Linked DNA regions of Homo sapiens: region 2 is linked to region 1. Evidence: fine-mapped expression QTL. A gene starts in region 1. The other region holds a variant in brackets. All regions are shown on one strand. Distances are from middle to middle.

What was found. PIP is the estimated chance that this variant, and not a neighbour inherited with it, causes the effect.
Region 2: its variant is fine-mapped to the expression of DGUOK in monocytes (TOPMed, PIP 0.95).

What each region holds. Positions count from the first base shown.
Region 1 is chr2:73,924,237-73,929,613 of GRCh38, forward strand. DGUOK (deoxyguanosine kinase) reads left to right here and starts at 2,644. Exons shown (of 7, transcript NM_080916.3): 1 at 2,644-2,816. The coding sequence starts at 2,675. RefSeq lists an enhancer at 2,676-2,945.
Region 2 is chr2:73,954,516-73,959,892 of GRCh38, forward strand. DGUOK (deoxyguanosine kinase) reads left to right here. Exons shown (of 7, transcript NM_080916.3): 5 at 2,610-2,725; 6 at 3,631-3,730; 7 at 4,195-4,431. The coding sequence ends at 4,221. DGUOK-AS1 (DGUOK antisense RNA 1) reads right to left here. Exons shown (of 2, transcript NR_104030.1): 2 at 3,452-3,692. Among named protein-coding and RNA genes, the nearest start is that of DGUOK-AS1, 24 kb to the right of the region's middle. The variant G/A (reference allele first, on the strand shown) is at 2,931.

The sequences.
Region 1 (5,377 bases):
GCAATGAGAATGAGTGAACTACAACTAATACATTCAACCTGGATGAATCTCACAGATATGTTAAATAAAAGAAGTATTTACTATATAATTCCATTTATATAAAGAAAACGCAAAACTAATCTCTACTGTTGAAGTCAGGCTAATGGTTATCTTTGAGGGATAGTAACTGGCAACGAATATGGGGGATTCTGGAGATGCGGATAATGCTGTTTCTTGATCTGAATCCAGGTAACAGTCATTCCATTTGTGAAAACTTCATTGAACTGTACACTTACAACACATCCTCTTTTCCTCACTGCACAACACATCCTCTTTTCCTCACTACATACTATGCTTTACCATAATTTTTTTTTTTTTTTTTTTTTGAGACGGAGTCTCGCTCTGTCGCCCAGGCTGGAGCACAGTGGCGCGATCTCGGCTCACTGCAAGCTCCGCCTCCCCGGTTCAGGCCATTCTCCTGCCTCAGCCTCCTGAGTAGCTGGGACTACAGGAGCCCACCACCACACTCCGCTTTTTTTTTTTTCTCTCTCTTTAGTAGAGACAGGGTTTCACCATGTTAGCCAGGATGGTCTTGATCTCCTGACCTCGTGATCCGCCCTCGTCAGCCTCCCAAAGTGCTGGGATTACAGGCGTGAGCCACCGCGCCAGGCCACTTCACCATAAAATTTTTAAAAATAATTTTTAGGAGCTCTGTTACTGGTGGAGGGTGCCCAGGTTCTTGACATTTTGAACAAAGAATTGGACAAAACGTACAAAGCAAGGAAACAATGAAGCAACAAAAGCACAGATTTATTGTACATCAAAGAACACTCCTTGCGGTAGGAAGGGCCCAAGCAAGCAGCAATTACAGAATTTTCTGGGGTTTAAATACCTTCTAGAGGTTTCCCATTGGTTACCTGGTGTACACCCTATGTAAATGAAGTAGTGGCCAGCGATCAGTCTGATTGGTTGCAGGAGGGGACCAATCAGAGGCTGAAGTAAAGTTATGAAGTTATACCCCATGCAACTAAAGACTTGGCCTGCCACCAGCCTGACTGATTGCCCGCGGGGACCAGTCAGAGGTACTTTCAATTTTTTATCTGCCACCCAGAAGAGGGATTAGCTTCTGGTCCTTTTGTTACTTGGGCTAGAAAGTTGGGGTTTTCCTTTTGATTTAGTTCTAGGAAGTCAGCCTAAATCGGCCTTAGGTTCCCTGTCTCCAGACCCTATTTTCCTGCCTCGTAGCTTTTAGGAGATTAATGCCTGCCTGCAGACAACTTCCTCATTTAACTTTCACAACACCCCTGAGGCAGCAAGATCCTGGCGAGGCAGAGAGCCTCTCAAGCTTTTTTGGATGAATATTTTCCAAGTCTGAGTTTACATAGGTAAAGAAATGTAAGCAGTTTTTTTTTTGTTTTTTGTTTTGTTTTGTTTTGTTTTGTTTTGTTTTAACAGAAGTGGCTGCTGGAGTGGAGATGGGAATGGGTAGGACTTTAGCCGCTCCAGTAGCCATTAACGCCCCACCCTGGTTATCCTTAAAAAATTCGATTAAAAAAAAAGTTCTTAATATATAAACATGACCTCAGCCATCCTATATATACATCAACATAAGAAAAAGGTCCCGTGCTTTTTATGGGAACAGCTTCAAGACAGGTATCCCAGCCCCCGGCCCCTCCCCAGCCCCCTTGCAATCAGATCCTTGTCTTCTAAAACCTGCCACACCTAAGAGCGCTGCCTGAAGGCCGGTTTGGCCTGTTGACTCCTGGTTTTGACTGTTGGTGATTTAAGCGATTGGAACTGGAAGCACCATTTGACAACATTTTGTAAATCATTACTTCTGAGGTTGTTATGACGACGGGGTGTGGCAGTCCGGCTTCACCTGTGGCAGCAGCTTAGGTCCCTGCCCTCCTGCAGAGCACACTTCACCGACAGCAGGACTCAGGTTTTATACAAGTCTCTACTCGCCATTGCTTACGTCCAAGAACCCAGCCTACCAGGTTTAAACAATTTCCAGTCACATACCTGAGCCACCACCACCTTATCCTGAAGGGATTTTTGGGTATAATGCAAATCGATTGACCGAACATTTATTTACTTATTCAAGACACAAACTAAGAGATGGGGTGTAACTGATTATCTAATTTGTTAATTTAGTCAATAATATGCCAGCATTGTGCAGGGGAATTACAGGGAATAGGAAAAAGTTAAATTTGTGTAAATCATCAGATTGAGTCATTTTCCTACTTTAAAACTTCCATTTTCTTCCGATATTAAAATAAAAACCAGACAACAAGCACCTGGGGGGGGGGAAATCCCCTCTTAAAATTACAATTTCTATTTTTAATTTTGTCTTCAGTTATAAAATTTATTTTAAAGTTATACAAAAATGAAGTGGTTGGATTGTGGAATTACGTCTTTTAAAATGTTATTTGTCCAATGAACAAAAACCACTCGCACCGCAACTCCTTTTACTATCAAATTCTGCACCGTTGCAAAACTTCCTTCACTCAACGCTTCTTTACAAACATCGCGATAGCGGAGCGGTCTCTTGGGCGCACCCCGCCGCATGTTCAACCCCACCCACTTCCTGTCTGACGATCTCCTTACGTCAACGGTGCGCTGGAGCGAGTGAGCAGCGATACCTAGGGCGGAAGTGCTCTCGGCGGAAGTGATCGCTGTGTGAATCGTGGGTGGGATGGCCGCGGGCCGCCTCTTTCTAAGTCGGCTTCGAGCACCCTTCAGTTCCATGGCCAAGAGCCCACTCGAGGGCGTTTCCTCCTCCAGAGGCCTGCACGCGGGGCGCGGGCCCCGAAGGCTCTCCATCGAAGGCAACATTGGTAAGGGCCGGAAAGCGGCTGCCAAGCCTTGGCCTCCGCCACGCAGGCGACAGAGGCTGGGAAAGGAGCTGGGCCCGGAATGGCCTGCGTCTGATGCGGCCGGCCTCTTTTTCTGGGCTGCGAGGAGAGCCTTTCCCCTCGCAAAGTGCACTGTGTATCTTTGCCTCCTTGTTTTTAGGATATCGGGCCTCAGTACCCGCCCACAGGAACATATTTGTTGGGGCATAAAAGCCACGCAGTTAGTGGATAGGACAAGAATTGTATTAGCTGTTTGTAATAGATCGAAATTGAAGCGACAAGCGGGTGCAGTTTATTTGTTCTCCTAGATAGGGTTGCCATATTTAGCAGAAATTAAAAATAATATCCAGTTAAAATAGAATTTAAGATAACGAATAATTTTTAGTGTGTGTCCAATGCAATATTTGGGACATCCTTACAGCAAAACAACAACGAAATCACTCATTGAAAGTTCAAATTTAACTGTGTCCTGTATTTTATCTGGCAACCCTATTCGAAGAGAGTTCCTAAATTTCAGTCGTTCAAATACCACATTCACAATTTTTGCCCTGTGCCTGTGCTAGTTGCATAATAATTTCTTAAGGCTTTTCTTAGAAGAACCTCACTTTTTAAACTTAAAAACATGTATTAAATTAAAAATTATTTTGTTAAAAGAGTGAGATCCAGTATCTTGAATAAAAAGTAGTCAGAAAGCAAAATGAAGGCAAAGCATTTCGATTTAATATTAATAAATTCTGACTTGATACTTTTATCTACCAAGTCACTGAGCCCCTAAAAGGGGCTTAGCAAGTGTTGAGTACTGAAGACGTAGCAGCAAACTGAGAATTTCTTTTTTTATTCATTCAACAAATCACCTTTTGAGCCACTTCCATATGCCAGCACTGTTCTTGGCCTGGAGAATACAGCTGTGAATAGAACAAATAAAAATCTCTGCTCTCATGGAACTCAAGTAGGGAGAGATGGACAATAAACAACATAAATTAAGCAAGGTGAACAATATGTTAGAGAGTAATAAGTATGATGGAGAAAAATTAGGGATGAAGAATTGAGGGAAGTTTTTATTTTATTTTATTTGAGATGGAGTTTTGCTCTTGTTACCCAGGCTGGAGTGCAATGACACGATCTCGACTCACTGCAACCTCTGCCTCCCTGGTTCAAGCGATTCTCCTGCCTCAGCCTCCCGAATAGCTGGGATTAGGGGCACCCGCCACCACACCCAGTTAATTTTTGTTTTGTTAGTAGAGACAGGGTTTCACCATGTTGGCCAGGCTGGTCTCAAACTCCTAACCTCAGGTGATCCGCCTGCCTCGGCCTCCCAAAGTGCTGGGATTATAGGCGTTAGCCACTGCACCTGGCCGAAGTTGTCATTTTAAATAAAATAAGCAAGGCCTCACTGAGAAGGTGACATCTGAGCAAAAAACTGAAGATGAGGGAGCAAATCACGTGGATACCTGGGAGAAGAATCTTCTAGGCAGAGTGAAGAGCAATTGGAAAGGCCCTGAGGTGGAAAGTGTGTTCGGGGAATAGGAGGGAAATCGTTGTGACTGAAGTCGAGTGAGCAAGGATGGGAGGGAAATTAGGGCAAAAGCCCAAGGGGTGGCCAGATTTTATAGGCCTTATCATGGGTTTTTAATCTTACCGAGATGGGTAGCCATTGGAAGGTTTGAGGAGTCAAGTGACAGTTTTACTTAGATTATAAAAAGATCACTGTGGCTGATAACATTGAAAGTGAAGAGTGTTAAGTGGTATTGCAATAATTATAGTATTGTGAAAAGTGAAAGTGGTGAGACGTGATTGGATTCTAGTTATACGTTAACAAAAATTGAGTTACATTTTAAGTAAAATTTAACAGTGGAAGTGGTGAGAAATGATTGGGTTCTAGTTATATTTTAAGATAGGGCCAATTGGATTTGGTGACAGGTTGAATGCAGAGTGTAAGGTAAAGAGAGGGGCCAATGATGACTCCAATTATTTTGACTTGAGTACTTGAAAGATAGACTCCTGATTTTCTTTTATTTCCTCCTCTCCTTCTTCCTCCCCTCCCCTCGCTTCCCCTCCTTTGGTGTGGTCTTGCCCTGTTGCCAGGCTAGAATACAGTGATGCAATTGCATCTCACTGCAGCCTGCCTCCCAGGCTCAAGCCATCCTCCCACCTTAGCCTCTTGAGTAGCTGGATCCACAGGTGTTTGCCACTATGCGTGGCTAATTTTGTATATTTTTTGTAGAGACAGGGTCTCACTATATTTTCCAGGCTGGTCTTGATCTCCTGGGCTCAATTGATCCTCCTGCCTTGGCTTCCCAAAGTGCTGGGATTACAGAAGTGAGCCTTGGTTTTAAGCATGTTAGGTTTTTACATGCCTATTAATATCCAAGTAGAGGTGTTGAATAGGTAATTGGATATGTAAGTTCAGAATTAGGGTCTCCCCGGACTGGAGCTGTAAATGTAGGTGGTATTTAATGCCAGAGACTATGTGTTGATGGAAAGGACTGAGCCCTGAGCATGCAAATATTATGAAACTGGGGAGATGGGAAGGAATAAGCAGA
Region 2 (5,377 bases), 30 kb after region 1:
TTAAAACACAAGCAAGCTAACAATTTTAAAACTCAAAAGAGAAATAGCTAGGCCTCAGTGTTCCTAGCCAGCCCCATGGAATCAAGAGAGTGCAGCTGATCAATGTACATCAAAAAGCCAGGCCCTACCTGGGACTGGCACAGCATGGGGACAGCATGCAGGAGGTGCATGGGACAAATGGCACCTGGGTTTGGGCTTGAGAGGCATAGTGAAAAGACCCACTAGCAGTCACTTTCCATTTTCTGTTTCTGACTCCAAGCAAGCAGAGCAGCAGTTCTTCTTCCTGGGTGGGACAGGTTAAGAAGACCAGTAAAGGGTCTCTCCCTCGCCACTTGTAGCTACACTATCTTTCCTGTTCACATTCAGGTGTGTCTTCCTCATGAGGACTGAGATGAAGAGGGGTCAGACTAAAGCACTGTTTGCACGGGATTTTTTTAAATAGAATTTGTTATAGCGATATCAGTAAAGCAAGAGTTATGCCAAATGCTCATAGTAGGAGTTTACTTCGACCTCTTTTTTTTTCCCCACTCAATACTGCCACCAGTTAAGACTTAGACTTCTCAGGGAAATCCATTTGCTCTGTTAAGGAAATTAATAGTAAATAGAAATATGTTAGCTTATTTTAATAGATCAATGTTAGTGTCAAGGTTTGTCTGCAAGCAGTGAATGAATAATTATAAATAGCTTTCCTAAAAAGAATTGTTCTGCCTTTGTGTGTGTACTTGGAAACATAAAGTCACATTTTAAAAAAATTTATTTTCACGAAACAGACAACATTTTTTTTCTCAGAAAGGAAAATGAGATGATAGCTTTGCTATGCTTAGAAATCCTAAAGCTACCTTTCTGGTGGGAATATAAATTGGTTAACCTCTAAGGAGGCAGTCTGGCAGTATATAATTGCAAGTGCATATACCTTTTGATCATTAATAAAATTTGTTTCTATAATTTCATTTCCTTAGAGAAAAGGTAAGATAAGAGGGAAACAGCAAAGACTCCCAAGTCTTTGGGATTATTGTGTACTACATTTGGAAATTAAGTTTTCATTTCTTAAGTAAGTTATTGAAAGAGGGAAGTCCTGGCCGGGCACGGTGGCTCACGCCTGTAATCCCAGCATTTTGAGAAGCCGAAGCGGGCAGATCACGATGCCAAGAGATCGAGACCATCCTGGCCGACATGGTGAAACCCCATCTCTACTAAAAATACAAAAAATTAGTTGGGCGTGGTGGCTCCCGCCTGTAGTCCCAGCTACTTGAGAGGCTGAGGCAAGAGAATCACTTGAACCTGGGAGGCAGAGGTTGCAGTGAGCTGAGATCGCGCCACTGCACTCCAGCCTGGCAACAGAGCAAGACTCTGTCTCAAAAAAAAAGAGTGAAGTCCTAAATCAGTGGGTTAATCCATCTGTTCTTCCAGGACAGATGATATTGAATAATGAAATGTTTGTCAAGCAGAGAGAGGACTGAGGATAATTCAGTCAAAACAAACATTTGGAGCAAAAATTTTGAGGTGTGAAAGAGCCTGGCCTGTTCCCCAGGAAAGAGGTCAAATCTGGCTAAAGCAGTGAGTCCAGGGGAAGAGCTAAGGCAGTTGAGAAGTAGGAGGGGTAGCTTTGTGTGACAGGTAAAGAAGATGTCATTTTCTGAGCCAGTGTGCATCAAACTTCACTACCAGATGAATGCAGAATAGAATTATGTACACTCTGCAAAGCAGCGGGGGAGGAGAGTTAGTCTCAAGCCTCACTTGTTTTTCCACTTCTTTGTTTTATCTTTGACCTGTGCAAATTTTACATTCTATTCCTGAGTGAATGTTTGGTATGACATGAAAGAGATATTTCAAATTACCTAACATTTTATAAATGCAATGCTATTCATACATACTGCTTTGAACCCTGGGGCTATGGCTGTAGGCGGTAAAGAGCCTGTGAAGTATTTTCAGCAAGGAAAGTCATGTCATTATATTGCCGTACTACAGACGGGTGGAGTGAAGGGGAAAAACTGGAAGGAGGGAACAGCTTTTGCCAGGAGCTCAATACAACTTACCTCAGTGACCTGTGGATGGGTAGACAATGAGGAAATAGAAGCCCACAAGGACTGCACTGCTAGTACCTTATGAAGGCAGGAATTTACTCCTGGACTTTCTGACCTTAAGGCCTGTACTCTGTCCATATGCTTCCCTGCCTCCAGGAGGCAGAACCAGAAGGCTCTTGCCATAATCCAGGTAAGAAGTAAAGAGGACCCGACCAGGGCAGAGGTGAGAGGAGAGGCAAGGAGAGAACATTCTAGAGAGATGAAAGAGAATTGAGTGACTTCCCAGATATAGTAGGGAGAAGGAAAAACAAGGAAAATTCCAGGTCCGTGGCTTGGATGACTGGATGGATGATGTTCATCATTAACCGACTTAGGATACTTCAGAGGAAGAGCAGGTTTAAGGTGGAGATGGGAAAAGAATGGTGTAGATCCTCTGATTGCATAAGAAAACAAGACAGCAGAAGCAAAGGCATGGCTTGTAATGCCCAAGATAGACATTATGGGTGGGCCTCAGAGCCCCCGAAGACTGCATTGTAGCAGCCAAAACAGCAAAGAGCTCATCAGGGCTTGGGGACTGTCTTTTAGGTTTGTTTGAAGAGACTGTACCAGAGGGCCAGGGAGGAGGAGAAAGGAATTGAGCTGGCCTATCTAGAGCAGCTGCATGGCCAACACGAAGCCTGGCTTATTCACAAGACAACGAAGTAAGTGGGGAGAAAAGAATGTATCAGAGACAGAGACCTGGCTCCCAACAGCCAGTTGTTAAAAACAAGTTCAGCATGCAGCCCCCTGTAGGAAGGTTCAGAATATACTGGAAATGGTTGGAAATGTCAAGCATTTTCCAACTCAGAAGTTTAATATTGCTGGACACCGTGGCTCACGCCTGTAATCCCAGCACTTTGGGAGGCT[G/A]AGGCAGTCACCTGAGGTCAGGATTCAAGACCAGCCTGGCCAACATGGTGAAACCCTGTCTCTACTAAAAATAGAAAAATTAGCCAGGTGTGGTGTCAGGCGCCTGTAATACCAGCTACTCGGGAGGCTGAGGCAGGAGAATCGCTTGAACCTGGGAGGCAAAGATTGCGGTGAGCCGAGATCGCACCACTGTACTCCAGCCTGGGCGACAGAGTGAGATGCCCAGAAGAAGTTTAATATTGAATATAATCTTTACATTCCAAGGGCCTTTTTATTAGATTGTATTTCTCCAGCTTTTTCTTTGTTTCTTAACATTTCCCTAGACTGAACATTGTGATTGATGGTGATAGTTGGCTCAGCATGAAGGGCTGAAAATGTTAGAGAAATTGTCAGTATTACTAAGTTGGCATTCCTGGTTTCTGCCTGTCCTCCCTTTAGGCTTGGTTTGTTGTCCACTTAAAATGTTTGGTGCTCTGACTGTTTGTTAGTATCACTCTCAAGAATGAAGAGAAACCTCAACCTTTCTGTTTCCGGCCAACTTTATTGAATTTGTTTTTTTAAATGCAGTTTACATGCAGTTTCTTTGAAAAGTCATGTTGAATTTAGATCTGTTCTCTGAGTAAGACTTGGCGAGTATGTGAAACTTGACTCAAGTTACATTTCTTTTTTTCTGTCCCCCAAACGTTCACGCTTCTTATAGGCTCCACTTTGAGGCTCTGATGAACATTCCAGTGCTGGTGTTGGATGTCAATGATGATTTTTCTGAGGAAGTAACCAAACAAGAAGACCTCATGAGAGAGGTGGGAAGGACTTTAACTCCTGTTTTCTGGTGGTTTCCTTTGTTGTACTTTTATCTTTCTGGCCTTTGCTTCAAAGTTCAATATCATGGGTCTTGTGCTTTGCATCTCACATTGCATTTCACACTCCAAGGCCTATGGAATCTTGTGCAGATTACAAATATCCCTATTCTCTAAAGTATGCTGGACTAATAATTGTTAAATAATTGACTTGTAACATGTGCTTGCCAGCTGACTTTCTTCTCTAAGGCATCCTAAAACTAGGGAAATGAGACTACTGGATTCTATTCCCAGCTCTGCCACTTGATGCTATATGACCCTGGGCTGCCCACATTTCTTCTCCATGCCTATTATTTTCCTTTCCTCACAAAAACCTCATGGGCTTGGCTGCATATGCATTGGGGGTGGACCATTGAAAATTCTGTTAAAAATGTGAAATTAAACTTCTGATTTTCTCCTTCCCACAGGTAAACACCTTTGTAAAGAATCTGTAACCAATACCATGAAGTTCAGGCTGTGATCTGGGCTCCCTGACTTTCTGAAGCTAGAAAAATGTTGTGTCTCCCAACCACCTTTCCATCCCCAGCCCCTCTCATCCCTGGAGCACTCTGCCGCTCAAGAGCTGGTTTGTTAATTATTGTTAGACTTTGCCATTGTTTTCTTTTGTACCTGAAGCATTTTGAAAATAAAGTTTACTTAAGTTATGCTTGTTTTTCTAATTCAGTTGCTCATTTATTTCAGCATGTATCTCTTGGTGCTTGCTCTAAATTCACCTCTAGACTAGTGTATTAGTCCGTTTTCACACTGCTATAAAGATACTACCTGAGGCTGGGTAATTTCTAAAGGAAAGAGGTTTAATCGATTCACAGTTTCGCATGGTGGGGGAGGCCTCAGGAAACTTACAATCATGGCAGAGGGGAAACAGGCACATCTCACATGGTGGCAGGTGAATGAGCGAGTGCAAGAAAGAGCAGGGAAACCTGCCTTATAAAACCATTAGATCTTTTGAGAGCTCACTGCCATGAGAACAGCATGGGGGACCTGTCCCGGTGATACAGTCGCCTCCCACCAAGTCTCTCCCTTGACACCTGGGGATTACAATTCAAGATGAGATTTGGCTGGGGACACAAAGCCTAACCATATCAACTAGCAATTTTCAAATTGCTCCCAGAACTCTAACCCAAGCCCTACCTGCCATGCATGAAGAAGGGAAATAAAGTGGCTCAAGAGTGGGTGGGATCTTAAATGTGAGCCCCCCAGAGCAGGAAATGGAGCATGAACTCCAGGAAGCTTCTTTATCTCTTCCCATCTGCCACTCTTGACATAGGGGACAGGTGTGGGGAACTTAAACCCTTGTCCTAGAGCTAAAGAACCTGGCCAAAAGAAAAAGGTAGAAAACAGCAAGAACCCAAAAGTTAAGCATCTGACATTTAAGATTGGCCCGCCCGGCACTCTATCTTTGTCTAAATACCTTACCCAATGACTTCCAGATAACGTTAATGGAGTGGATCTCTCTGTGCAGGAAAAAAAAAAAAAAAATTTTTTGTTGTGCTCTTTACCCTTCAAATAGAATTTATTGTTAAGGGAAGAAAAATACATGGCTCTATAGGATTGAAGTGCTCCATTGCCAGAAGCCTGCAGGTCCATGAT